3 separate regions of the Homo sapiens genome follow, and regions 2 and 3 are each linked to region 1. Evidence: fine-mapped expression QTL. A gene starts in region 1. Each other region holds a variant in brackets. All regions are shown on one strand. Distances are from middle to middle. Region 1 holds the start of LTBR (lymphotoxin beta receptor). Region 2 overlaps TNFRSF1A (TNF receptor superfamily member 1A). Region 3 has its middle 21 kb from the start of LTBR.

Evidence for each region. PIP is the estimated chance that this variant, and not a neighbour inherited with it, causes the effect.
Region 2: its variant is fine-mapped to the expression of LTBR in whole blood (TOPMed, PIP above 0.99).
Region 3: its variant is fine-mapped to the expression of LTBR in whole blood (INTERVAL, PIP 0.99).

Annotation. Positions count from the first base shown.
Region 1 is chr12:6,380,985-6,388,984 of GRCh38, reverse strand. LTBR (lymphotoxin beta receptor) reads right to left here and starts at 4,823. Exons shown (of 10, transcript NM_002342.3): 1 at 4,531-4,823; 2 at 4,301-4,397; 3 at 3,838-3,963; 4 at 3,606-3,758; 5 at 2,823-2,919; 6 at 2,541-2,638; 7 at 480-587; 8 at 160-185. The coding sequence starts at 4,626. RefSeq lists an enhancer at 4,905-5,770.
Region 2 is chr12:6,328,417-6,338,878 of GRCh38, reverse strand. It overlaps TNFRSF1A (TNF receptor superfamily member 1A), which reads left to right. Exons shown (of 10, transcript NM_001065.4): 2 at 4,635-4,788; 3 at 5,014-5,142; 4 at 5,363-5,512; 5 at 5,732-5,810; 6 at 7,953-8,026; 7 at 8,168-8,281; 8 at 8,584-8,612; 9 at 8,813-9,101; 10 at 9,257-10,108. The coding sequence ends at 9,567. PLEKHG6 (pleckstrin homology and RhoGEF domain containing G6) reads right to left here. Exons shown (of 16, transcript NM_001384598.1): 16 at 10,373-10,462. Among named protein-coding and RNA genes, the nearest start is that of TNFRSF1A, 8.4 kb to the left of the region's middle. RefSeq lists enhancers at 1,559-1,608, 1,382-1,676, 1,669-1,758, 1,075-1,944, 3,687-4,557 and 1 more. The variant T/C (reference allele first, on the strand shown) is at 5,699.
Region 3 is chr12:6,400,347-6,410,808 of GRCh38, reverse strand. It overlaps the pseudogene RPL31P10. Among named protein-coding and RNA genes, the nearest start is that of LTBR, 21 kb to the right of the region's middle. The variant G/T (reference allele first, on the strand shown) is at 5,012.

The sequences.
Region 1 (8,000 bases):
TGCCTAGGACAGTGCCTGGTACGTGGCATGTTCAGTAAATCATCAGTTGAATGAATGAATGAGTGTGGAGTCAGCCTGCATACTCTCTTCCTGTCTGCTCCACCTTGTACCCTCATCACCTCTTCCCCTTCTTGCTGCCTTCTCAGCCCCCGCCATTACCTGCGGACGCCTCTTGAGCAGCGATCCTGCAATGGAGAATGAAATGGGTGTAGGCTCCCCGGCAGGCCTCAGACCTAGCCTTTCAGCCTCCACATCCCAGCACAATGTGTAGCAACTTGACCACCCGGGGGCCCAGAGGAACAAGCCACTGTCACTCTCATCTCCAGCCTCAGAATAAGCAGCTGGATGAAGATAAGGATGTCTATGTTGGGGGTAGGCATTGGGAGTCTTGAGGGTGTGGAGGGTTGCACCGGGGAAGTTGAATATTCCTCCCTCCGGCTCCCATTGCCAACCATCCACTGCATCCAACCCTTTCCTACCCAGTTTCCTGCAGAGAGAAGGGTGGCTCTTCCAGATGCAGGAGAAGACGGTGGCAAGGAGCAGAAAGAAGGCCAGTGGCAGCAGAACGGCCAGCATCAGCATGGTTCCTGCCAGGACAGCAGACAGGAGGGTGATCACAGCCCCAAGAAGGGCAGAGGGGAGGAGGAGAAGGAAGAGCTTTCCAGATCCCTGGGCAACCCAGACAGAGAAAAGGGAGCAGCTTTTTTCCTTCTAGACACAATGCAGCTCCTAAAGGCAGAATGAGAGAAACTTCCCTTGGGTTATAGAGAAGGGGAACTAAGTTGGACTTGAGGACCTCTTGGCAGCCAGGAGAGACTGTATCATGGATGGGCATGTTTGGGGGTGGTGTGGGTGCCCTCCTGCTCAGAGACCAGGATTGGGCAGGCTTGTGTGTGCAGGATGGGAGCTTAGGCAGTTGATTTTCAAGGTCTGGAAGTGGGATTGGGAGACAGTAGGGAAGGGTGGGACTTGGAGTTGTAAACAGACACAGGCTAGAGCCACATTTCTGTGGCCTCAGCCATTGTACAGAGGGGCTGCTGTAGAGGAGCTAGGGTTGCCCTGCTGTACCTGTACCTGTGGGGGTGTTTACAGGGGTGAGAGAGTAGGGAAACTTGCTTCGGAACTGCCTGTGGCCGCCTGGTAGAGCAGGGCTTGCAAGTTCTCCACCCCCTTGCTCAGGGCAGGTTCTAGGAGGGGAAGAGAAAGAGAGGCTGGAGTTCGGCTTCTCCAGCTGTGATCTGTAGCAGTGGGTAATTTCTCTTTCTCTGGGTACCAGTGCTGCCAGCAATAGCATGGAGCCTCCAGTGTCCGTCAGCTACGCCTGGGGAAGGGCGGGAGGACTCCCGCATTTCTATGCTGGGCATTTTGCCTCTTCTCATTCATGTAAATCTGTAGCCTAAGGGAATATGGGATGGGAGGCCTGGGGAGAAACTGGACTGGGAGTCTGGGCCACGGTTTCCTGCCCGGCTGTGTGACTTTTAAGTCATTTCACTTCTTTGGGCATCAGTTTTTCATATATAGGATGAGGTTAGCTTACATACTCTCTAAAATTCCAGCTCTAAAATGCCAGTTGTATTTGATACATAGTTAAAAATTAACAGGGCACAGAAAAATACTTAGATTGTGGAATGAAAAAATCAGGTTACGAAATATTAAAATTACTTCACTTTTAGTAAACAACAACAAAACCCAGTATGTATAAACATGCATAGAAAATGTCCGGGAGGATATATACCACAATGTAACGAGTGGATATTCTAGGTAGTGGCTCTGTGGGTGAGTTTTTAGTTTTGCTTATCTGAAGTCTCTAATTTTCTATAGTGCATGCATTATGACATGGGCTCTGGAGTAAGAAAACCTGAGTACAGGTTCTAATAACACCAGTGACCACCTGTGTGGGTGATCTTGAGTATATCACTTAACCTCTTTGAGCCTCGGTTTCTTCCTTCAGTCCATGAGGATGATAATAGAATCTACTTCATAGCATCATTAAGAAGATTAAATGAGTTAGTAAATGTAAAGTGGTTACAGAGTGCCCAACACACACAGTGAACCTTCTGCCAATTAGTGATGTTACAGTCATTAGAAACAATAGTCATCTACTAGGCTAGCAAGCCAATCAGTCCACAGGAAACAGTCAAGAAAGAGTCAAATGGGAATCTTCTGTCTAATAATAAAAGTATATAGTCTAATAAAGAGGTGTTTGGTCTAGTTAATGGATTGTGTGAAAAAAAAAAACGGATTGTGTAATGTTGGTAAGCCCAAAATGATGACAATAGTAGTTATCATTACATCTCAGTGTGGGATGTGTTCCTTGACATAGTATTACAGTATATATAATTTTAAAAGTGTGTGTGTGTGTGTGTGTGTGTGTGTGTGTAAACTAGCCTAGAGATACTCCAATTTTTTCTGTAAGGAACTTTCTTCTTGCCCAATTCTGGGAGGGAAGTGTTCATCTTTTCCCCATTTTTTTTAAGATGTGGAGCATTAAGGCATTTTCAGAGGCGCCCCCCCCGTGTCCCTCAGCCCTGGTCCCTCACCTGACATCTCTGGGGGCAGTGGCTCTAATGGATTTTTGCAGGTTGTGTCGGACTGGGCAGTGCCTGGAGCTGCCTCCACCAGACCTTGGTTCTCACACCTGCAGAGGAAAAAAAGATGATGACCTTTTCACGCCCTGGCCCACCAGTGTCCCGACTCCACTGGGCAGGCGGGGAGGCTGAAAGTGGTGAGTCGAGTCCGTGGTGTCAAGGATAGGCGCTGGGGGTTGTTAGCAGCTGAGGCTTCTCAGAGGGTGGAAGGAGCTTGGGTGGGGCTGCACTCACCTGGTGTGGGGCTGGCAGCGGGCGCTGGGGGAGGAGGTATTCTGGAAGTGCCCGGCCTTGCAGGGGACGCAGTGGTTGTTACCCTTCCCAACTTCATCTGGCAAGAGAAAGGCAGGCCAGCCAGGGTGAATGGGCAAAAGGGAGGGGCCCTTTGCCGGCCTGTGAGTTTCCTTTAAGCCTCAGGATGCCCATCCACCCCATTGCGTAGCTCTCACCTTTCCCAAGCTCTGCTTTGCTGCCTTTTTTTTTTTTTTTTTTGAGACGGAGTCTTGCTCTGTCGCCCAGGCTGGAGTGCAGTGGCGCGATCTCGGCTCACTGCAAGCTCCGCCTCCCAAGTTCACGCCATTCTCCTGCCTCAGCCTCCCGAGTAGCTGGGATACAGGCGCCCACCACCACGCCCGGCTAATTTTTTGTATTTTTAGTAGAGACGGGGTTTCACTGTGTTAGCCAGGATGGTCTCGATCTCCTGACCTCGTGATCCGCCCACCTCGGCCTCCCAAAGTGCTGGGATTACAGGCGTGGGCCACCACACCCGGCCTACTGCCTACCATTTTGCCCAAGCTTCCCAGTACTGAGAAGAACCACCTCCTGTGTCCCCTGCACCTGTCCCAGTTCCATGTCCCTCCAGAACCCTTCTGTGAGCCTCTGCATGGAATGAGAAGAGGAATTTTAAGCCAAGGATCTGGGGGGTCGCCGTGGACACAGTACCATATTCCCTGCTCCCACTTGAGATCCCTGGCACCCAGCCTCCTTTTCACATCCAGCCCCTCAGGGACCTCTGACCTTTGAGCTCGGCTTCAGTGCCAGGCGGGCAGTCAGAAAGTAGCTCGCAGTGTGTACACTCGAGGGCCCAGGCAGCACAGAACATTCCCGGCTGGCAGCGGCACTGGGTCTTCCGTTTGCTTGTGCAGGGGGCAATCTCCTCGAGGCCCATCACTGGCGGGGAGACGGGAGGGCTCAGGGAGGGGCCAAGCTCCAGGGGATCCAGCCCCCCCGCAGGCACATCCCCACTCACCTGGGTCACAGGGGCGGCACAGCTGGCAGATGGTCAGGTAGTTCCAGTGCTCGTTGTAGGAATTCTCGGCACATGTGGCACAAACTGTGTCCCGGATGCGGCTACATTTAGCTGAGACATAGGTGCCTAGAACGTGAGTGGAGCAGTAGAGCCTCAGGAGACGAGGCTCCACCCTCACCTCCGCTGCCTGTAGTGTGACCCTGGCCTTTCCCTCGGTCTCTCTGGCCCCCCATCATCCTGCCAGTGGCCCTCCGGCTCCCTCTCAGTGAGGTAAGGAAAGAGGAGGCCCAGTGGGGAGGGCCAGTCCCATCTCCTCCACGTGATGTCCAGGGTTTCCCACGCTCGTCTCCAGCAGCCAGTTTTCCTGGGGGACAGTGCCCACCTTCCCTCTGAGGCCGCGAGGGGGCTGGAGCCCCCGTGACCCACTTCCGAGGCCCAGGTTCGTCCTGCCATTGCCTCTCACCTGGCGGGCAGCGGGAGCAGCAGATGCGGTGCTGGGGCTCATAGTATTCCTTTTCCTGGTCCCTGCAGGTCTGGTTCTCCGACGCATATGGAGGCACCTTCAAAGGGAGATGGAGAAGAGGAGAGAAGAATTAGTCAGGGGTCAGCTTGGGAGGGCAGAGGGAATGGAGCGACGGCTGCCCAGATCCCTCTTGCCCACCCTCGCCCACTCCTACCAGGCCCCTTCCTCACCGCCTGGGGCTGCGATGCTGCCAGGAGCCCGAAGAGGCCCAGCACCAGAGGCCCCCAGGCCAGGCCGGGGGCAGAGGTGGCCCAAGGCAGGAGCATGGCGGCCACTCGGCCAGGCGGCCAGCAACGTGGGGGCCTGGGAGGAAGGCAGGAGGCCCGACGTCCTGGGCAGCGGTGGCGGCGGCTGCCCGAGCCCAGAGCCTGGGACGGGACTCAGGGCCGATGTGCACCCCAGGGCCGGGAGCGGCCAGGCCGGGCCTCCAGGGCTCCCATGGCGGAGCTCAGGAAGTGGGAGTGGAGCGAGCTGGCCGCGGGGCGGGGACAGGGAGCGCTGGGAGCCAGGCCGGCCTGTCGCAATCGCAGCCCAGGGAAGAGGAACAGGCTTGTCTGCCTCGATGCGGGGCGGGAGGGGCGGCCGGGAAAGCACGTGAGGGCCGCGGGGCCGGAACCGGCCTCCTCCCTTCTTCGGAAGCCCGATCGGGAGAGCGGACTGCGGACAGCCCTGGCCCAGCCGAGGGAAGGGCGGCGGGCCCGGGGTCAGCCCTTGGACAAGCCTCGCAGGGAGAGCAGAGGGAGTTCCAGAGAGCGCAAGGGACAGCTGGGTGCGGGATCTGGAAAGCGAGGGGCCCAGGACGGGCAGTCATGGAGAGGGCAGGGCGCGGGGACTGCAAGGCCGCAGAAGCAGCTCTGAGACCGAGGAGAACCGGCTGGCAGATGCCCGGGTTCCTCCCCCGTTGTCCTGCCCTACTGTGGGAGTTTTTCAGACAAATTACAAGGGACTAGCAAATCAGCCAGCCCCCCACGCTACCAACCCAGCCCAATCCGCACAGGAGTGGGCACAGGTCACCTAGGAGACCCTTGAGAGCTGTGCAGCTTGCCCTGCTCCCTGTCCTCAGGGAACCTCCCTCCCAAAGAGAGGGGGAGGATATGCGGAGGGGAGTCCTGGGGCCAGCAGGCTGGACCTGGGCACTCAGTCCCTCTGCTCTGGCTTCTTTGCCCATGAACCTTCAAACCCCTTAGAACTGGAGAAAGCTGAGAGCCCACGCAGTCCAGCCCCCTCACCTTAAGCATGGAGAGGGAGGCTAAGGGTGATACATAAGGGAACCGGGATTCCAGGGTGGCCTGGTCTCGTTCCTGCCCTGTTTCATCCTCCCATCTCCCTCAACCCAACACCCCACCCACCCGTGGAGTTACTTGCAGCTGCCCCCTTTTACACGTGGTTCTCTGGTCCCCAAGTTTCCGTCTTCCTAACTCCCACCTGTCCTTGAGGCTTCACTGAGGCTCTGGAAGGCAACCTCTGCCCTAGGTTGCACAGTCCCCGTGAAGACTGCCCTCTGTACCTGGCTGTCTTGTTTGCTTCCCACCAGGCTGTGAGTGCCACCATGGCCCAGGCTGAATCTTCAAGTCTGTGTTCCCCATGCTTAGCAGAGTCTGGCACATACCATGTGCCCAATAGGTATTTATGGAATAAATGAGTGATGGCCACATCACAGAGCCAGTCCACCGCAGAGCCAGCTACAATCTGGGTCTCCTGATGTCTAGGTCCCAACTCATTCCAGCAGTCCTGCCAACTCCTTGTGGCTCAGGGATGTCTCCCTTGGGATGAGGGGCTAACCTCTCTTGAGATAGGTCACTTGGGCACTATCCCCCTCCCTGAAGGACTCTGTTCAGCACTCGTCCTTACACTGGTCTGTCTAACTTCAGGTCTGATGTCTGGACAGGTGCAGGTGATGGGAAGTGTGCATGGGGAGGAGAGGTCACAAAAGGGGGAAAGGACCTGCCTAGGCTGTAGGCATTTCACTCTGTGAGGCTCTCTCCCCTCACCTGGTGCAGGCAGCTCACCGTACAGATGGGCCAAAGATGGCTGGAAAGGGCAGAAGTATCAGAACAGCATGCACTGCGCGGGGCTGCTGAGCCTTCCAGGGCCCTAGCGCTGGGGGCTGGGATGAGAGTCCCTGCTGAGCTCTTAAACGCGTAAAGGAATGTGTGTGTAGCGACCCTAGGTCCTTTTTTCTCTCTCTTCTTTTTACTTTTTACTGTGGAAATTCCACATGCAAGATAATATACCAAAAGAGAAAAAGTAATATTGGGAGTCTCCCATATACTCCTTACCCAGCTTCAACTCACTGTCAGTTTCATTTATTCTGTATACCCCCTCCCCCACCAACGCACACACTCTTCAAATCCCTCATTATTATTTTGAAGTAAATCCCAGACATCATATCATTTCATTTGAAAATATTTCAGGATTTTACCCTAAAAGACAGGGACTCTTTCTCTATTCTATTTTTCTTTTTTTCCCCACCCTGTCTTATGCTGCTGAGACCCTTTCTTTTAATAGAGGTGTAACATATAATACAATGAAACCGTAAGGTACACTGATCTTACAGATACAGCTCAGAGAGTCTTCACTTTTGTGTATTCTTGCATATCCCCCAACTGGTCCAGAACACCTCTTCTCTTCTCTTCTTTTCTCTTTTCCTTTCCATACAGAGTCTCGCTTTGTCGCCCAGGCTGGAGTGCAGTGGTGCAATCTCGGCTCACTACAACCTCTGCCTCCCAGGTTCAAACAATTCTCTGCCTCAACCTCCCGAGTAGCTGGGATTACGGGCGCCTGCCACCATGCCTGGCTGATTTTTGTATTTTTAGTAGAGATGGGGTTTCGCCATGTTGACCAGGCTGGTCTTGAACTCCTGATGTTGTGATCCACCCGCCTTGGCCTCCCAAAGTGCTGGGATTACAGGCGTGAGCCACGGCACCCGGCCCCAGAATGTTCCTTGCACTACAAATGTTTGCTACATGCCCTTCCCAGTCAAAGCTTCCTGCTTCACAGGTAACCACTATGTCCAGACCCCTTTTAACCCCAGCTGGCTGGACTGTATGTTTCTTTCTGCTGCCAGCCGTAAGCTGGCGCTTCAGCCCTCATGGACTCTCTACACCCTAAGGAACGAGCCCTGAGATCTGGGTTTTGATCCTGGCCCCATCACTTTATCTCTGTGTGCCTCTTTATTGTGTCAGTCAGCTACTGGTTTGCTTGCAGGTCTGTGGGATGGAGGTGGGATGGGAGGAGTGAAGCAGCCAGGCTATTTCTCTCCTCTCTGCTTTCTGGCTTCACCTGCAGTTGGTTGTCTTCCTTCCTTCCCCACTTCCATAATCCCATCTCCTACCAGTAGTCCACACTATTTAGTTCCTGCCAAATGGCTCTGGAGGCTTCTTGGTCTTTGATGCTACATCACCCTGCCATCTTTCCAGGCCTAGAGATGGTAGCTGCTTCCCGCTCTGCTGTTTTCTGAGCTGCCTCCCATTGTCTTCTCAGCTCCTCCATCACCCATGTACCAGTTAGTTCTCTGTGTTAAACTTCTTCTGTTTGAAAGACTTAGAGTGTTTCTTGTTTCCCAGCTGGATCACGAAAGACAAATCTTACCAATAAATGGCTACTATAATGCCCAGCCATCCCCAGGAGGATAAAGGGA
Region 2 (10,462 bases), 51 kb after region 1:
GTGTGTGGATTGCTTGAGTCCAGGAGTTCGAGACCAGCCTGGGCAACACAGCAAAACCCTGTCTCTACAAAAAATACAAAGATTAGCGGGGCATGGTGGGGCGTGCTTGTCATCCCAGCTATTCGGGAGACTGAGCTCGGGAGGACGGCTTGGGCCCAGGAGGTGGAGGTTGTAGTGAGCCCTGACCACACCACTACATTCCGTCCTGGTGGTGAAGGTTGCAGTGAGCTATGATTGTGCCACTGCACTTCACCCTGGGTGACAGAGTGAGACCCTGTTTCAAAAAAAAAAAAAAAAAAGTAGTGAGGCATCTGTGGAAGTCTTCAGATCATTTCCATGACCATGGAAATGCTGTTTGGAGCCAGGCCCTGGAGATGGAGAGGAAGGTTCACACACTTGTGCGTGCAAGTTAAAGCCTGAATGAAGATTTAAAAAGTGTGTAGGACGGATGGGAGCAGGAGAGAGGCTAGAAGACACTTGCAATAACCCAGGTGTGAGGCAACCCAGGAATGCGGAGAGGACCGAGAGATCACAGGGGGAGGCCTCGCAAGATGAACTGACACATGGGATGGCGGCAGGGATAGGGATGGGGCCCTGGGGAGAGAGCGTGGCAAGTTCTCAGCATTCGTCCGGGAAGTCGATGGTGTGTCATTTGTCTAGGTGAGGAGATGGATGAATTCCGTCTGGGGCATGTTAAGGGTCAGGGAAATGGTCATGTGGAAGGGTGCGCCTACCAAGCTGGAGGAGAGGTGCTGCAACTTCTTTCTGCCTTTGTATCATTCAGACACACTGTGTTCACTCATCAGTGGTTCTCAAAAGGAGAGGAGCACACCAGACTCTTAAGTAAGGGTGTGTGTGCTTGTGTGTGGGGAGGTGGGGGGATGGTCTGAAAACTCTCCCCCGGAGATAAATATATTCCTACCAGGGGTGCTGTCTCCTCACCTCCCTCTTTGGGAATCACTGGCTTCTACTAGAGTGGAAGACAGATGTATCATTAGATCGATCAGTTGATCCATATTTATCTGCTCCCAGTCTGGAGGTCTGGTTCTGGGAGCTGAGAGGACACCAGGGGAGGATAAGACACTTTCTGACCAAGACATTTTTTGATCTCTCATCTTATAAGGTTCGTGGTCACTTTGGGGAGATCATATCTGTCACCCAACATAACCATATTATGATAAGAGCCAAAAGTAGATAGGGTCAGTTCACGTGCTTCGAGTTCACAGGGACTATGGGTCTAAGGAGCCGGGGTGGAGGAAACAGACATCGTCAATGGTGGCTTCACGGGAGGGAGATGGGATCTCAACTGGGCCCTTGGAGGAGAAGCTGCCACGACCTCCCCCAACACCTTGACATTAAATGAACAGACACATGAATGAGGGGGAAAGGAAGACTAATTGGGTCCCTGCAAGGTGGCTGGATCGGGGTCAGACCACAAGGCCGATCTCAGCGTCGCCTCCCCACTCTGCAGCCCCAGCACAGGAAGTCACACTTTAAAGCCTCCTCTGGCGGAAATTGTGGGGGAGTTGGAGGGGTGTTGGGCCACCCCCTCAACTGTCTCTCCACAGGCACCCCAGCTTCCTGCCCTTCTGCTCCAGGCTGGAGTCTGGGCCTAAAGAGCTCACCTCCTGTTTCTCCTGTTTTGCTTCATTTACGCAACTGCTGAGGACTGGGCTTACTGGGGCCAGCTGGTGCCAGCAGTGGTGCCCAGTGGTGGGGAGTCTGAGGGCCCTGGCTCCTAGGGATCAGAGAGGGCTGACCTGGAGCATTCTGGGGGCCAGGGGAAGCCTAGGAAGCAGGGCTGGTTCTTCCATCCGGCATCCCTTCTTGCCTGCTCCCTCGTTCCTGGAAGTGGGTGTTCAGGGCTCTGGAGGCTTTCCTGTATTGCCAGTGGGCTTGGGGAGGGTCTGTGGAGACTCAGAACTGGCCTTGTTTCCTAAGGATTGTCTGGGGACCCCAGGGAGGCCCCCAAACCCAGCACAACTGGTCAGAACCAGCCAGGCTGTGGGAATGCGGTGAACCCAGGGTGGGAGGGCAGCCTTGGCTTGCTTCCTGCTGGGACTGGGGAGTGTTGGGGGATGGAGTGAGAGCTCACGGAATGGGTTTAGCTGTTGGAGACTTGTTGAACTGGGAGGAGGAGCTGGGGCGGGGCCTCAGCTAAAGGCCGCTGAGGGGCTAGGAGGAGCCAAGTGGCCCTCAGGGAAGGGAGGGCACAGACCTGATGGGCGGAAGCCAGGGTCGAGGGAGACTTCCCTTCGGGATGGAATGGGGAGAGGGAGGCATTTCCCGGAACATGTGGGCCAAGTGGGACAAGGGTCTGTGGCCTGGCTCTTTGCATGGGGAGGGGATGGATGGGGGTTGAGTGGGGATGGGAAGGAGGGACTTGGCCATAGGAAGAAGGGATTAGATGGAGTCCCACTTGCATGCAGGCTGGTGCCTTCTGCCTTTCTGCTGACTCATGACCCTTGAGGAGCTGGGGAAGCTGCTAGTTCCCTCTCCCCTCCCTAGGTCTCCCTCCCTCTGGCCTGAGTCACTGGGGCGGAGTTGCTGGGAAAAGATTTCCCTTTCCCGGATCTGACTTAACCCCCAGAGTGCTGGAAAGAGAAGGGAACACGTGGCCTGAGAAAGCCTCTCTCCCTCCCTCCCTCCAGGGAGGCTCATCCCCCACTGGCCAGAGGTCCCTGAAAAGCTCCCTTTAAGGCTGTCTGGGGCTGGCGTCCCCCAGTTCTTCATCATGACTCTGCCTCAAGCCCCCTGGATGGGATTCAAAGTACCAGTGACCTTAGGTGCTCCAGTGGCTTCTTCGGGGAAAGGAACCACACTTTCAGGACTGGGAAGTTCTTCCCATCACCACCCCAAACCCTTCCTGTTGCCCTGGAAGCCCCAGTCCTGTTCTCAGCAGAGGTGGCACGGTGTTGGCTGGTGCGGGCAGGGGAAGGTTGTTGTCCTCTGAGCAGGGGCACACGCCTCCACCTGCGGGGGCTGCTGTTGTGTTTCTGTGTGTGGCTTCCCCTGTTTGCGGCTGAGGCTTGAACTTCCGGGCCTGCACAGCTTACAGCTGCAGCGTCTCCCCGTGGCTGACTCAGGGTGACTGGCCTCCTGCTCCGAAATGTGGAGTTGGTGAGGCTGGGTGGCTGTGGGCTGCCTGACCCTCCTTCCCTGCCCTAGGGTTTCTGTGATCTGGTGAGTCAGTTGCTCCCCAGTGTTTAACAGACATTGAGGACACCCTCTTATCTTTACACAAAGTGTCTCTTATAGTAGAAAAAAAAAATGAAGCCCAGGGAAAACCAGAAATGAAGCTGGCAGAGATCAAAGTCCAAGTTAGAGCTAAATATTCACTCCTGGCTTTGCTTTCCTGGCACTGATGCCGGAACAGGACAAGCCATTTAGCTGCTGTGGGGTTGGCCTGAGACTGCAAAGCACACCTTCCAGAATGCCATGGTGTGCAGGGGGCTCCAGGACTCCCCAGCACGCCCTCAGCTCTGACCTGACAGTCATCCAAGCTGGGTCGCTAGCCTTGGCCAGCTCTATTTGCCTATGTCCTGCACACCTTTGCCCACTCCTGCCCCCGTCTCAACTTTGTCCCCCGTCTACCCATGCAGGATCCCCAACCTTTCCCTTTTACTCTCCTCCCCATTTGTCCTTGCCAACCCCGGGTGTTTGTAAATTTTGAGGTGGAGGGGATGGGCCAGGGAATGTGAGGGCGGAGGCAGATTGAGGTTTGATACAAACATGTAAATAAACTTCCTTCTTCTGTCCACTCCCCAGGAGTGGTGCTCACGGGAACATCACTCGCCCCCACCGCCAGCTGACTTTTTCAGAAAGCTTTTCATGGTGTAACATATTCCTGGGATGTGCATAGATCCTCATTGTTTACCTCTGTGAATGTTCGCAAAGCGATCACACGGTGAACCCAGCACCCAGATGGAGAAACACCGCCCCAATCTTTAGGGCTGCTTGTTGGAAGAAGGGGCCATCACTGAAGTAACCTGCCAATTCCCAATCAAAAACACATCCTTTCAACATCTGCCCTGTGTCCAGCACTGTTAGCTGCTGTGGGGGATTTCACAGTAAGGATAAAATACAGGGCTGGGCTCACGCCTGTAATCCTAGCACTTTGGGAAGCCAAGGTGGGAGGATCACTTGAGCCCAGGATTTTGAGACCAGTCTGAGCAACGTAACAAGACCCTGCCTCTACTAAAAATAAAAAAAAATTAGCTGGGCATGGTGGTTCACGGCCGTAGTCCCAGCTATTCAGGAGGCTAAGGTGGGAGGACTGCTTGAGCGTGGGTGGTGGAGGGTGCAGTGATTGCATCACTGCACTCCAGCCTGGACAACAGAGCAAGATCCTGCCTAAAAAAAAAAAAATACAGCTTAGATCTGGGGCCTACTAGCTTTGAGTTGAGGGAACAAAAATGAACACACAGGACAACTAGAGAACAATTAAGCATCAGATTGTATGGCCCCAACTGTCTAAGTTTCAAGGAAGAACTCTAAACTTAGTGAGTGGCGTGGCCTGGGCGGAATGTTTCACTGAGGAAGGACTTGAGCCAGGGAAGTTTTAGATCTGCTACCCCTAAGCTTCCCATCCCTCCCTCTCTTGATGGTGTCTCCTCTATCTGATTCTTCCCCAGGTGCTCCTGGAGCTGTTGGTGGGAATATACCCCTCAGGGGTTATTGGACTGGTCCCTCACCTAGGGGACAGGGAGAAGAGAGATAGTGTGTGTCCCCAAGGAAAATATATCCACCCTCAAAATAATTCGATTTGCTGTACCAAGTGCCACAAAGGTAGGGGCAAGTGGAAACGGTGAATGCCCTCAGGTCTGGGGTGCTGCTTCTTTCTCTGCTTCTTCCAGTTGTTCTTCCCTAACTTTGCTGTCTCTCCTGGGCTGGGATTTTCTCCCTCCCTCCTCTCCTAGAGACTTCAGGGAATCGGCCCTGGCTGTTGTCCCTAGCATGGGGCTCCTTCCTTGTGTTCTCACCCGCAGCCTAACTCTGCGGCCCCATTCACAGGAACCTACTTGTACAATGACTGTCCAGGCCCGGGGCAGGATACGGACTGCAGGGAGTGTGAGAGCGGCTCCTTCACCGCTTCAGAAAACCACCTCAGACACTGCCTCAGCTGCTCCAAATGCCGAAAGGGTGAGTGTGCACAGGCAGGAGAGTCAGGCGGGTCTTGAGTGGTGTGTGGGTGCCTGTCTATGTGCAGGCTGGTGGGTGTGGGCAGGAAGGTGTGTGTTTTGGTGGGACACTGCATGGATGTGAGTGTGTATTACAGAGACACACACTTAGGGGTATGTCAGGAAGGGGATGCAGGGACAGGAGGATGCAGGACTCATACCCCATCTTCTCCCCTCACCAGAAATGGGTCAGGTGGAGATCTCTTCTTGCACAGTGGACCGGGACACCGTGTGTGGCTGCAGGAAGAACCAGTACCGGCATTATTGGAGTGAAAACCTTTTCCAGTGCTTCAATTGCAGCCTCTGCCTCAATGGGACCGTGCACCTCTCCTGTGAGCGCAGCTCTCCTGAGGCCAAGCCCTCTCCCCACCCCAGGGGTTGGCCCCTTCCCCATGCGGTGGCACTTCCTTTCCTTCCCCCTCCTGTATTCTGTGGGTCTGACAACCAACTCCTCTCTGGCCGCCCCCACCCTGTCCCTCGTCACTTCCTCTGTCCTGTGGGGTGGGGGTGCAGGCGCT[T/C]CTCCTTTAGCTGTGCCGCACTTCTCCCTACAGGCCAGGAGAAACAGAACACCGTGTGCACCTGCCATGCAGGTTTCTTTCTAAGAGAAAACGAGTGTGTCTCCTGTAGTAAGTGAGTATCTCTGAGAGCTGCTGGGCACTGGATGGTGGCATGGGTTGGGACGGGTGACTGGTGGGAACCATTAGCTGGGCAACAGATGCCAGGATGCCCCAGAGTGCTCAGGGTCCTACTGGCTGAGTAGGAGACACTTCGTTAAGACACCAGGCAGTCCTTCCCCTTGCTCTTCAAATCTGAAGAAGTCTTTGAGGATGGAAGATCATGCCCCAAGGGCTGGCAGCCCTTCCAACTCAGATATGTAGATTCTTGGATCTACGATAGCTCATTGGTTCTAGGACATACACTCTTATAGCTCTGAAATCAAACCTCCTATAACTGGTGACTCATCATGGTTGAATTGGCAGCTCTGTTTGCGTCTGGGTAGTAATGTAAAGAAAAGTGCCTTTTATTCTTGATGGCGTCTTAGGTTTGATGCAATATGGTATTTCCTCATTAGTCACTGTCCAGGCCTCCTTACTCCTGGCTCCACAGAGGCTGTTCTTGTCACTCACTTGCAAAGAATAAACTCTGAGGGCTCTCAGAGTTTGAACCCCAGCATAGCCACTTACTGGCTATGTGACGTTGGGCAAGTTTCTTAACATCTCTGAGCCTGACTTTTCTTTTGGTGTTTTTTTTTTTTTTTTTTTTTTGAGACAGGGTTTCACTCTGTCACCCAGGCTGGAGTGCAGTGGTGCAACCGTGGCTCAGCCTCCACCTCCAGGGCTCAAGCCATCCTCTTGCCTTAGCCTCCTGAGTAGCTGGGATTAGAGGCACACACCACTACACCCAGCTAATGTTTTACTTTTTGTAGAGACAGGGTCCTACTATATTGCCCAGGCTGGCCTCGGACTCCTGGGCTCAAGCGATCTTCCGCCTCAGCCTCCCAAAGTGCTAGGATTACGGGCATGAGCCACCACGCCTGGCCTGGGCCTTAGATTTCTTATATTTAAAGTAAGCATAATGACATTCATTTGGTGAATTTGTGAGAACCAAAAACAAAGAAACAAACAAAACCTACAACACGTCTGACACAAAACTATTTATTTTCCATTAATCTTCTTTTTTTTTTTTTTTTTTTTTTTTGACACAGAGTCCTGCTCTGTCGCCCAGGCTGGAATGCAGTGGCGCGATCTCGGCTCACTGCAACCTCTGCCTCCCAGATTCAAGCAATTCTCCTGCTTCAGCCTCCCAAGTAGCTGGGATTACAGGCACGTGCCACCATGCCTGGCTAATTTTTGTATTTTTAGTAGAGATGGGGTTTCACCATCTTGGTCAGGCTGGTCTCAAACTCCTGGTGATCCACCTGCCTCTGCCTCCCAAAGTGCTGGGATTACAGCCGTGAGCCACTGCACCCAGCCGGCTTCATCTCTTCTTGAAATCACTTTTATACCATTCTATGTGGTTCTCACCATGAGCTTGAGTGGTGGGCTAAAGTGCCTCTCCCTGCTTTCAGCTTCCTGCTGGGAACTCACTCTCTCAAGTTCCTTCCAGCACCACCCCATAGAGTTCCCATCACTCCACACTGTCCAGTGACAACTCCCAACATGGAAGATCTGCTAGTTCTACAGGGTGCTCTCTGGCTGCCCCAGTAACATGTGTTTTTAAATTTTTCACATGCATGTTTGACCCCGACTCCCCGAAGTCAGGTACTGTAACTAGCAGTGTCATTTAAGAAAAAGCCCTTTAACCTCTCTTTGCCAAAGGATTCTTATCAGCAAAACAGTGATGAAACAACAATCCCATAACAGCTAGCTGGCTACCTTCTCAAGCACTTATTAAATGAGGCATAATGATTTTGCTTAATCCTCAATCCTGAGAGGTGGGCGATCCCTGTGGTGATGAGGAAACCGAGGCTTGGGGGTTAATGGCTTGCCTAGATTCACACTGCTAGCCAAGGAATGAACTGGAATTTACACCCTGACCCTGACTGCTTTTCACATTTTCTACACAGCCTTTTCAAGATCCCTGCCAATTCTAAAATTAAATGATTCTATGATTAACTGTGTTTCATTCTTCTGCATCAGTTCCCAAAACAAATTATATCAAGAGACAGCAAAAATATTTGTAAAGAAAGGATGTCCAACAATCTGTGTGGTTGTTTTTCTGTGTTCCTCCAATGGTAGGGCCTCTGTTCACCAGTGCCGTCTCTTCTTTTAGCTGTAAGAAAAGCCTGGAGTGCACGAAGTTGTGCCTACCCCAGATTGAGAATGTTAAGGGCACTGAGGACTCAGGTGAGGAGAAGTGACCTGGTGCCCATGCTCACCTGCCCTCTCCCTCTTCTTGCCCCCACCCGTCCATCCATCCCACCCATCCATCTATCCCTGCGGCCCCCCTCTGCCCGCTCCTCTGACCAACACCTGCTTTGTCTGCAGGCACCACAGTGCTGTTGCCCCTGGTCATTTTCTTTGGTCTTTGCCTTTTATCCCTCCTCTTCATTGGTTTAATGTATCGCTACCAACGGTGGAAGTCCAAGCTCTACTCCATTGGTGAGTGGGGGCTTTGGGAGGGAGAGGGAGCTGGTGGGGGTGAGGGAGGACATGGGTGGGTGCGATGGACATGTGTGGAGGGAGGTGAGGAGTGTCCCCTCAGTTCATACCGCTGGGGACTCTGGGCAGAAGGTGGCCCTGGATGGCTGGGGAGATGTCGAGCTGCATCAGTAGCTCTCTCGTCCCTGGGGCCACATAGGCCCTGAGGCATGTCACCACAAGTCCCCACTGCCAGCTGAGTCCAGGGTGCCAGGGCTGAGAGAGGAAGTGAAATTTATGATGCTTTCTTTCTTTTTCCTCAGTTTGTGGGAAATCGACACCTGAAAAAGAGGTGAGATGAAATGAGAGAGTTACTCCCAAATGTCCCTGACCATTCCTTATAATTGCCTAATGCTCAGATCCCCTGGAATCATCCTTCACTTTCCGGGGGCTCGCCTCATTCCCTCTAAGTCCCAACCCCCACGTAGAATAAAGAGGGCCGGGGCTGGTTTTCGCTGCCGCACTAATGCTGCGCCACCTTCTCTCTTTCAGGGGGAGCTTGAAGGAACTACTACTAAGCCCCTGGCCCCAAACCCAAGCTTCAGTCCCACTCCAGGCTTCACCCCCACCCTGGGCTTCAGTCCCGTGCCCAGTTCCACCTTCACCTCCAGCTCCACCTATACCCCCGGTGACTGTCCCAACTTTGCGGCTCCCCGCAGAGAGGTGGCACCACCCTATCAGGGGGCTGACCCCATCCTTGCGACAGCCCTCGCCTCCGACCCCATCCCCAACCCCCTTCAGAAGTGGGAGGACAGCGCCCACAAGCCACAGAGCCTAGACAGTGAGTTTCTCCCGCGGCTGGAGACGAGGAGGCTGGGGGAGGGCCGGGGGAGCGCGGGAGGCGCTCCCAGAGGGGACCACGAGAGGCGGAGGGCGCGGGATGCGGGGCGGGGCCTGGGGTTGCCGCCCGAGGCTCACCGGCCCGCGTCCCCGCAGCTGATGACCCCGCGACGCTGTACGCCGTGGTGGAGAACGTGCCCCCGTTGCGCTGGAAGGAATTCGTGCGGCGCCTAGGGCTGAGCGACCACGAGATCGATCGGCTGGAGCTGCAGAACGGGCGCTGCCTGCGCGAGGCGCAATACAGCATGCTGGCGACCTGGAGGCGGCGCACGCCGCGGCGCGAGGCCACGCTGGAGCTGCTGGGACGCGTGCTCCGCGACATGGACCTGCTGGGCTGCCTGGAGGACATCGAGGAGGCGCTTTGCGGCCCCGCCGCCCTCCCGCCCGCGCCCAGTCTTCTCAGATGAGGCTGCGCCCCTGCGGGCAGCTCTAAGGACCGTCCTGCGAGATCGCCTTCCAACCCCACTTTTTTCTGGAAAGGAGGGGTCCTGCAGGGGCAAGCAGGAGCTAGCAGCCGCCTACTTGGTGCTAACCCCTCGATGTACATAGCTTTTCTCAGCTGCCTGCGCGCCGCCGACAGTCAGCGCTGTGCGCGCGGAGAGAGGTGCGCCGTGGGCTCAAGAGCCTGAGTGGGTGGTTTGCGAGGATGAGGGACGCTATGCCTCATGCCCGTTTTGGGTGTCCTCACCAGCAAGGCTGCTCGGGGGCCCCTGGTTCGTCCCTGAGCCTTTTTCACAGTGCATAAGCAGTTTTTTTTGTTTTTGTTTTGTTTTGTTTTGTTTTTAAATCAATCATGTTACACTAATAGAAACTTGGCACTCCTGTGCCCTCTGCCTGGACAAGCACATAGCAAGCTGAACTGTCCTAAGGCAGGGGCGAGCACGGAACAATGGGGCCTTCAGCTGGAGCTGTGGACTTTTGTACATACACTAAAATTCTGAAGTTAAAGCTCTGCTCTTGGAGACAGTGGTCTGTCGGGATGGGAGGTGGGGGCAGAGGCCCAGATCCTGAGGGGTGAGATGGGAAAAGCCCTGCACTAGGGCCAGGTAGCCCATCACCATCACGCCAAGTGACAGAGGAGTAGCAGGTTCTTGTTCTGAACACCGTCATCTGTTGCCCAAGCTGGAGTGCGCTCACTGCAGCCTCCAACCCTTGGGCTCATGGGGTCCTCCCGCCTCAGCCTCCGGACACAGGCACACCACCACACCTGGGTAATTTTTAAAATTTTTTTTTGTAAAGACAGGGTTTCCCTATATTGCCCAGGCTGGTCTGGAACTCCTGGGCTCAAGGGATCCTCCCACC
Region 3 (10,462 bases), 21 kb before region 1:
CAAACCCAGCCCTCCTGACTACATTAATGGAAATCTCTATACTAGAGAAGTAGCAGAAAGAAATGAATGCTTATCTTCAAGAATACAAAATATTTATGTCAGTATCTGTTGTGTTATACAGCATATCCAGCTTTCAATGAAAACCACAAGGTATACAAAAAGGAAAGAAAAAACACAATCTGGACTGGGCATGGTGGCTCACACCTGTAGTCTCAGTACTTAGGGAGGCCAAGGCAGGCGGATGACGAGGTCAGGAGTTCAAGATCAGCCTGGCCAGTATGGTGAAACCCCTCTCTACAAATACAAAAATTAGCTAGGCATGGTAGCGCATGCCTGTCAACCCAGCTACTGGGGAGGCTGAGGCAGGAGAATTGCTTGAACCCAGGAAGCAGAGGTTGCAATGAACAGAGATCATGCCACTGCACTCCAACCTGGGTGACAGAGCAATACTCCGTTTCAAAAAAAAGAAAAAGACACAATCTAAAAAGACAAAAAAAAAAAATCAGAACCAGACTCAGATATGACATCAGACATGGAATTTAAAGTAACATGATTATGTTAAAGGATTTAATGGAAAAGGTAGACAACATGCCAAAAGAAGATGGATAAATTCAGCAGAGGAAACCATAAGAATAAAATGGAAATGCTTGAAATAAAATCGTGGTGACAGAAATGAAGAACACCTTTGACTGGTTCATCAGTAGACTCAGTATAGCTGAGAAAAGAATCAGTGACCTTGGGTGTAGAGGTCAATAGAAATTTCCCAAACTCCCTTTCCAACTTGGACATGGCAGAATGGCTCCCACAAAGAAGGGTGGCGAGAAGAAAAAGGGCCGTTCTGCCATCAACGAAGTGGTGACCCGAGAATACACCATCAACATTCACAAGCGCATTTGTGGAGTAGGCTTCAAGAAGCGTGCCCCTCGGGCACTCAAAGAGATTCGGAAATTTGCCATGAAGGAGATGGAAACTCCAGATGTGCGCATTGATACCAGGCTCAACAAAGCTGTCTGGGCCAAAGGAATAAGGAATGTCCGACACCGAATCCATGTGCGGCTGTCCAGAAAACGTAATGAGGATGAAGATTCACAAATAAGCTCTATACTTTGGTTACCTATGTATTTGCTACCACTTTCAAAAATCTACAGACAGTCAATGTGGATGAGAACTAATCGCTGATAGTCAAATACATCAAATAAAGTTATAAAATTGCAAAAAAATAAAGAGGAATTACCCAAACTGAAGTGCAAAAAAAGAGTGGGTAAAAAACAAAACAGAACAACAACAAAAAAGAAAGAAAGAAGACACCATCCAAGAATACCAAATGAGTTAACATGCCCATAATTGGAATTCCAGAAGGAGAAGAAAGACTTGGACAGGATTTGTCTAATCAGACTTAGTTAAACAAACAAACAAACGAACAAAAAGAATAAGACAGGAGAAACATTTGAAGAGATAATGGCTTAGAATTATCCAAAATTAGTAACAGACAGAAAAGCACAGATCAAGGAAGCTCAGAGAACACCAAGCAGGATAAATACCAAAACAACACAGCCCCTCACCAAACCCATGCATCTAGGCATATCATATTAAAACTGCTGAAAACCAAAGAGAAAGAAAATCTGGAAGTCAGCCAAGGGGGAAAAAACATAATATCTTACCGAGGAGCGAGGATAAGAATTACAGCAGACTGCTAGTCAGAAACAATAAAAGCAAAATGAAATGGAGTAATATCTTTTTTTTTTTTTTTTTTGAGATGGAGTCTCGCTCCATCACTCAGGCTGGAGTGCAGTGGCATGATCTTGGCTCACTGCAACCTCCGCCTCCCGGGTTCAAGTGATTCTCCTGCCTCAGCTAGGTGCCTGCCATCATACCCAGCTAATTTTTGTATTTTTAGTAGAGACGGGTTTTCGCCATGTTGGCCAGGCTAGTCTCAAACTCCTGACTTCAGGTGATCCACCAACCTTGGCCTCCCAAAGTGCTAGGATTACAGGCGTGAGCCACTGTGCCTGGCCCAAATTAAGAGTTTTCTATTTTTATTTTTATTTTTTTAGAGACGGGGTCTCACTACGTTTCCCAGGATGGTCTGAAACTCCTGGACTCCAGTGATCCTCCCACCTCAGCCTCCCAAAATGCTGGGATTACAAGCATTAGCAACTACACCAGGCCAAAATTAAAAGTTTATCAGACAAACAGAAACTGAGGAAGTTGATTGCCAGCAGACCTACTTTATAATAAATGTCAAAGCAAGTTCTCTAAGAAGAAGAGGCTGGGTGTGGTGGCTCACGCCTGTAATCCCAGCACTTTGGGGGGCCAAGGCGGGTGATCACTTGAGGTCAGGAGTTTGAGACCAGCCTGGCCAACATGGTGAAACCCTGTCTCTACTAAAAACACAAAAATTATCTGGGCGTGGTGGTGGGCGCCTGTAGTCCCAGCTACTCAAGTGGCTGAGGCAGGAGAATTGCTTGAACCCGGGAGGCGGAGGTCGCAGGGAGCCGAGATTGTGTCAGCCTGGGTTGAACAGAGTGAAACTTCGTCTCAAAAAAGAAAGAAGAAGAAGAAATATAATCAAAATCTTGGATCTATACAAAGAAACAACGTACTGTAGTTTATAGAATACCATTTACAATAGCAGCCCCCATGAAGTTTTTAGGTATAAATATAACAAAATACGTGGGAGATATGTGTGCTAAAAACTACAAAATACTGACGAAAGAAATCAACATGGGGCCGGGCATGGTGGCTCCTGCCTGTAATCCCAGCACTTTGGGAGGCCGAGGCGGGCGGATCACTTGCGGTCAGGAGTTCAAGACCAGTCTGGCCAACATGGTGAAACCCCGTCTCTACTAAAAATACAAAAATTAGCCCAGTGTGTTGGCACACGCCTGTAATCCCAGCTACTTGGGAGGCTGAAGCAAGAGAATTGCTTGACCCCAGGAGGCGGAGGAGGCGGTGAGCCAAGACTGCACCACTGCACTCCAGCCTGGGCGATGGAGATTCCGTCTCAAGAAATAAATAAATAAATAAATAAATAAATAAATAAATAAAAGAGAAAGAAAGAAAAGAAAAACTGAATGCTACAAGTTCAGCCCATTACTAACCAGTTCCAGACAAATTGGCTTTTTTCTTTTTTCTTCTTATTTTCCTCTGGCTTTTCCCCTCATTTTAAAAATGGAGAGGTAATCGTGCCTCTCATGAGCGAATAGTTTTAGTATGCTTAGAACACTGTCCTGTACATAGTAAGCATTCAACATATGTTGGCTAATACTACTGAAGCCAATTGTAACAGTAGTATTAGAAGCCGTAATAATATTACCCCAGTCAAATATGTCCATAATTGGCAATAGGGAAAGAATTGCTGCCACTCAGCAGTATTTGGAGTATTGAATGTCATTGTTTACTTTTTCTGGAAGGAGCGTGACCTAAGACACTGATCTAAACTGAATGTGCATGGCTAATGGTGTGGATAGACAGAGATTTTAAGTGGGCAAAAGTGAAGGTTGTGTTGACAAGAAGTTTCAGGAAACAGTGATGTGGATGAATTTCCCAGAACGGTCCCAGAATATGAGAATAATGTCCCACGTGAATGCTAATCGAAATTCCCACTCTTCAGAGGAGGCTATCAGCAATCAGGTACACATCAACCATATGGCTGTCATGTAGTCTCTTCGTATCACCCCACTTACTGCCCAAGTGATTTATTTGTAAACAATGTGGCCAGCGTGGTGGCTCACGCCTATAATGCCAGCACTTTGGGAGGCCGAGGTGGGTGGATCATCTGAGGTCAGGAGTTTGAGACCAGCCTGGCCAACATGGTGAAACCCCATCTCTACTAAGAATACAAATATTAGCCGGGCCTGGTGGCGGGTGACTGCAATCCCAGCTACTCGGGAGGCTGAGGCAGGAGAATCACTTGAACCTGGGAGGTGGAGGTTGTAGTGAGCTGAGATCACGCCATTGCACTCCAGCCTGGGTGACGGAGTGAGACTCTATCTCAAAAAAAAAAAAAAAAAATGTGACTAGGGTGGCAGGCAGTGGTAGAGGTTATACTTGAGCTCTATAGTATAGACTTAGCTCACCAAGGCTGACCTCTGGATGCTGATGCTGCTAAGTGTCCCATATGTCAGGGGAAGTATTCTTGTATTCTTGCAAGTATTTTGTCATGGATGGGGCAGGGATTTGTCTTCACTGAGATAAACACTTACTCTAGATTTGGATATGCTTCACTTACATGCTATTGCTAGCAGGACCATCAATGAACTTACTGAACACTTCATACCTCATATCTCACAACGTCTTTTTGGACCCATTTCTATAAGTTATACAAAAAGGGTAAGGTAATGCATGGATGACCATGGGACTCAGTAGTTCTAATGTGTACCACATTCCTTATAAGTAGAAATCTCAATTTTTGGAAGCCTCAGTTAAAGTGGCATGTAGTCATTTTGCACCCTCTTGGAGTACTGTTCAATTTTCGACATTGTATATGTGCTTAATAGTGACTAAGAATAGGCATAATTTCTTCTGTAGCCAAAATGCATTGGTTAAAGAAAGGAGAGGTAGGAGTGGAGTGGTGCCTCTCCTATTACACTTAACAGCCAACTCGAGAAAGTTATGCTTTTCATGTTTGCAACTCAGGGCTCTCTGCTGCCTTGAGTTGTTTTAGAACTCCTTGTTTTAGAAAAGGAGGAGTACATGCTGCCACCAGTCGTCACGGAGATGCCTCTGTTTATCGATTTACTAAAAAGGATTTATTTTTGTATGACGTTTAAAGCAGTTTAAATTACATTCATTTGCTGACTTAGAGAACTGTGGGAAGTCTTGACTTATGGGAGTTGGGCTTTTGGACTTCTCCTCTGTTTGCCAGTTTTCTTTTTGTTTCTGTCTCCCCTTTTCTTTCCCCCGTCTGTCTTGGGCTATCTCTTTTTAGGCGCATAGGCAAGGAGCTGTGACCGACAATTTGAATGTTTTTAAAAATACTCTCATAAAAAACACACCTTTGGCCGGGCGC[G/T]GTGGCTCACGCCTGTAATCCCAGCACTTTGGCAGGCTGAGGCAGGCGGATCACAGGAGGTCAGGAGTTTGAGACCAGCCTGGCCAACATGGTGAAACCCGGTCTTTACTAAAAATACAAAAATTAGCAGGGCGTGGTGGAGCGCGCCTGTAGTCCCAGCTACTCGGGAGGCTGGGGCAGGAGAATTGCTTGAATCTGGGAGGTGGAGGATGCAGTGAGCCGAGATTGCGCCATTGCACTCCAGCCTGGGAGACAGAGTGAGACTCTGTCTCAAAAAAAAAGAAAACAAAACATTTTTTTCTGCAATACTTTTCAAAGAATGGTTTAAAAGCAATGACAATCCATGATCAGTGAGAATTTTCACTCAGATTATGGTCTCTCAATTCCTTTTTCAAAGAGCAGACAGGCTACTTGGAGACTTGGGTAAATTTATGGATTATAATAGATTTAAGAGGAACAGCCATCAGATGCCATATTTGGAGCTGGTGGGACCTCATTCAGACAAAATCAGTATAAAAAATATTTCAGACAATTCAGGATTTCCTTTCTTTAAGGGCTAGGTATTGGATAATGTTATAAGTCATTTTTAAAATTTTCTTAGGTGTGAAATCTTAGTGTATTTTCTCTATATTCATATCTGTTAGGATGTTTGTGAAAATATTCATGATTAAAATCACATTTTTGAGATTTCATGTTTGGGATATTTTTTAGACTCCCTCATCCACCATTGTGGGTGCAGATAATGAAACAAAATGGCAAGTTGTTGGTAATTTTTGAAGCACGTGTGACGAGCCCTGGGAAGTGCAGTATTCTCTATATTTTTGTGTCTACTTCAGTATGTCCATGACCACTCCCTTTCCCCTCCAAAAAAAAGTTAAAATTTAAAAAAAGCTGGCTAAATTAAAAAAAAGAAAAGAAAAAGGAAATCAACAAAGATATAAATAAATGATTAGGTGTAGGCTGGGTGGGGGCTGGGTGTGGGCTGGGTGTGGGCTGGGTGCACCTGTAATCCCAGTGCTTTGGGAGGTTGAGGCAGGGGGATCACTTGAGGCCAGAAGTTCGAGACCAGCTTGGACGACACAGAAAGACGCAGTCTCTACACAAAATAAAAAATTACTCAGGCATGGTGGCATGTGCCTGTACTCTCGGCTACTTAGGAGACTGAGGTGGGAAGATCACTTGAGCACAGGAGTTCAAGGTTGCAGTGAGCTATGATTGCACCACTGCACTCTAGCCTGCACTCTAGTCTGGGTGACAGAGTGATACCTCGCCTCAAAAAAAAAAAAAAAAAGGTATAAATAAATAGAAAGATATACTGTATTCATAGATTAGAAAATTCAATATTGTAAATATGTTAATTCTCCCCAGTTTGATCTATAGATTCAATGCATTATCAATCAAAATCATAGGAAGCTTTTTTTTGATAGAAATTGACAAACTGATTCTAAAATTTATATGAAAAGGGAAAGAAATGAAAAGGAACTAAAAAAATAGTAGGAGAAATTACTCTACCACTTATTAGACTTATTAGAAAGCAATTAGTGTGGTATTAGCGAAAGAGTAGACAACTTAGGTGAATAGAGCCAATAGAGAGACCAGAAATAAACCCACACAAATAATGTCAACTGATTTTTGACAAAGATGCAAAGGCAATCCAGTGGTGAAAGAACAGTCTTTTCAACAAACAGTGCTGGAAAAATTAGACATTCATATGTAAAAACAAAACCAAAAAACCTCAACACGTACCTCACACTTACACCAAAAAATGGCTCATAAACTTAAATGTAGAAAGTAAGACATCTAGAAAAAAGCACAGGAGACCCTGTGTGTGTGTAACCTTAGGTTTGGTGATAAGTTTTCTGGTACTGGAAACACAATTCATAAAGAAAAAAATGATGAATTGTACCTTATCACAAATAAAAACTTTTGTTCTGTGAAAGATAGGTTGAGAAAATGAATAGACAATCCACAGCCTGGGAGAAAATATTTGCAAATAATGTATCTGATAAAGGACTTCTATCCAGAATAAATAATTCTTCTTTTTCTTTCTTTCTTTCTTTCTTTTTTTTTTTTTTTGAGACAGAATCTCACTCTGTCACCCAAGCTGGAGTGCAGTGGCGTGATCTTGGCTTACGGCAACCTCTGCCTCCCGTGTTCAAGCGATTCTCCTGCCTCAGCCTCCTGAGTAGCTGGGATTATTACAGGCACGTGCCACCACACCTGGCTAATTTTTGTATTTTGCGTTTTTTTTTTTTTTTTTGAGATGGAGTTTTGCTCTTGTTGCCAAGGCTGGATTGCAATGGCACGATCTCGGCTCACCACAACATGTGCCTCCCCGGTTAAAGTGATTCTCCTGCCTCAGCCTCCCGAGTAGCTGGGATTACAAGCATGCTCCACCATGCCCGGTTAATTTTGTATTTTTAGTAGAGACGGGCTTTCTCCATGTTGGTCAGGCTGGTCTTGAACTCCTGACCTCAGATGATCCGCCCACCTCGGCCTCCCAAAGTGCTGGGATTACAGGCGTGAGCCACCATGCCCGGCCTAATGTTTGTATTTTTAGTAGAGATGGGGTTTCGCCATGTTGGTCACACTGGTCTCGAACTCCTGACCTCAAGCGATTCAGCCGCCTAGGGCTTCCAAAGTGCTGAGATTATAGGCGTGAGCCACTGCACACTGCCGAATGATCCAATTTAATAACAAGCAAAATATCTAAAGAGACACTTCAGAAAATAAAATACCTGGATGGCAAATAAGCATATGAAAGTTGGTTAACAGCATTTGTCATTAGAGAAATGAAAATTAAAACCACAATGAGGTACCACTGCTCACCTACTACAATTTCTAAAACACTGCCACCAACCACCAAATGCTGGTCTTACTAGAATTTCTAAAACACTGCCACCAACCACCAAATGCTGGTCTTACTAGAATTTCTAACACACTGCCACCAACCACCAAATGCTAGTCGTGCTACAATTTCTAAAACACTGCCACCAACCACCAAATGCTGGTCTTACTACAATTTCTAAAACACTGCCACCAACCACCAAATACTGGTCTTACCAGAATTTCTAAAACACTGCCACCATCATCACGAGGTCAGGAGATTGAGACCATCCTGGCTAACATGGTTAAACCCCACCTCTATTAAAAATAAAAAAAATTAGCTGGGTGTGGTGATGGGCGCCTATAGTCCCAGCTACTCAGGAGGCTGAGGCAGGAGAATGGCGTGAACCCGGGAGGCGGAGCTTGCAGTGAGCCGAGATCGCGCCACTGCACTCCAGCCTGGGTGACAGAGCAAGACTCCGTCTCAAAAAAATAAATAAATAAAATAAATAAAAATAAAAAATAAAAAAAAACACTGCCACCATCACCAAATGCTGGTCCTACTAGAATTTCTAAAACACTGCCACCAACCACCAAATGCTGGTCTTACTAGAATTTCTAAAACTGCCACCAACCACCAAATGCTGGTCTTACTAGAATTTCTAAAACACTGCCACCATCACCAAATGCTGGTCTTACTAGAATTTCTAAAACACTGCCACCATCACCAAATGCGGGTGAAGATGTGCAACAGGAACTCTCATTCATTGCTTTTGGGAATGCAAAATGATATAGTCACTTTGGAGACAGGTTGGCAGTTGCTTTTTCCTTTTTCTTTTCTTTTTTTTTTTCACTTTGTGAGACAGTCTCGCTCTGTCTCCCAGGCTGGAGTGCAGGGTGGGATCACATCTCACTGCAGCCTCGACCTCCCGGGCTCTAGAAATCCTTTCACCTCAGCCCCTCAAGTAGGTGGGACTAGAAGCACACATCAGCACACCAGGCTAATTTTTGTATTTTTTTTTGTGAGACAGGGTTTAGCCATGTTGCCTAGGCTAGTCTCGAGCTTGTGGACTTAAGCGATCTGCCTGTCTCAGCATAAGGAAAGACAGAAACTGTCACAGATCAGAGAAGACTAAATATTAAGGGATCATAATCACTAAGTGCAATGTGGTATCCTGGATTGGATTCTGGAACAGAAAAAGGATTTAAGGAAAAAAACTGGTGAAATCTAAATAAAATCTGTAGTTTAGTTGATATGTTAATTTCTTAATTAGTTTTGACAAATGTATCATGGCTATGTGAGATATTAACATTAAGGGCAGCTGGGTGAAAGGTATACCAAAACCCTCTGTACTATCTTTGCAACTTTTCTGTAATTCTAAAATTTTTCCAAACTAAAAACTCATTAAGAAAAAAAACCCAAATGAGCCAGGCGTGATGGTTCATGTCTGTAATCCCAGCACTTCGGGAGGCCGAAATGGGCAGATGGCTTGAGGCCAGGAGTTCAAGGCCAGCTTGGCCAACATGGCGAAACCCCGTCGCTACTAAAAATACAAAAATTAGCCAGGTGAGTGGGCGCCTGTAATCCCAGCTACTCGGGAGGCTGAGGCAGGAGAATCGCTTGAACCTGGGAGGCAGAGGTTGCAGTGAGCCAGGATAGCACCGCTGCACTCCAGCCTGAGCGACAAGAGGGAGACTCCATCTTAAAAACAAACAAACAAACAAATACTAACTGATGGGGATATAAGTCAAAATAGGAAAGTGGATATCTCTGGGATGTCATATGTCTGCCAGAATATAAACTGGAACTCAAGCAGTAAGCATGACTGAGTGGAAAGTGGCATGAAGTTATCTTCTAAGGAAGTAAAATGTTGCATATCTTCTGTGATGGTAACATGGGTATATACCTATGTAACACTTCTTCAGGCTATACACTTAAGATTAATATACTTTATATACTTTACAGGCCGGGTGAAGTGGCTCATGACTGTAATCCAAGTACTTTGGGAGGCCAAGGCAGGTGGATCACTTGAGGTCAGGAGTTCGAGACCAGCCTGGCCAACATGGTGAAACCCCATCACTACTAATAATACAAAAATTAGCCAGGTGTGGTGGTGCACGCCTGTAGTCCCAGCTACTAGGGAAGCTGAGACAGGAGAATCTCTTGAACCTGGGAGGCAGAGGTTGCAGTGAGCCGAGATTATGCCACTGCACTTCAGCCTGGGCAACAGAGTGAAAAAAAAAATATATATACACACACACACACACACACACACACACATATTTTATATATATGTGTGTATATATACACTATATACACATATTTTATATGTATGTGTGTATATATACACACACACACACATATAACATATATATTTATATATATATACTTTACTACACTGGAAAAAAATTTTACTGGTTTCCTATTGCTCTTAGGGTAAAGTTCAAAATTGCTGTAGTCTGTAAGTCTGAATGACGTGTTACCCGCCTACTTCTCTAGCTTCATCTCTCTATTCCCAAGTTCCAGCCAAACTATTCTTCCTATCACAGGGCCTTTGCACGTACCATTTAACCCACCAGCAGAGCTCTCCTCTCCAACACCCCTTCAATTTGGCTAGCCCTTAT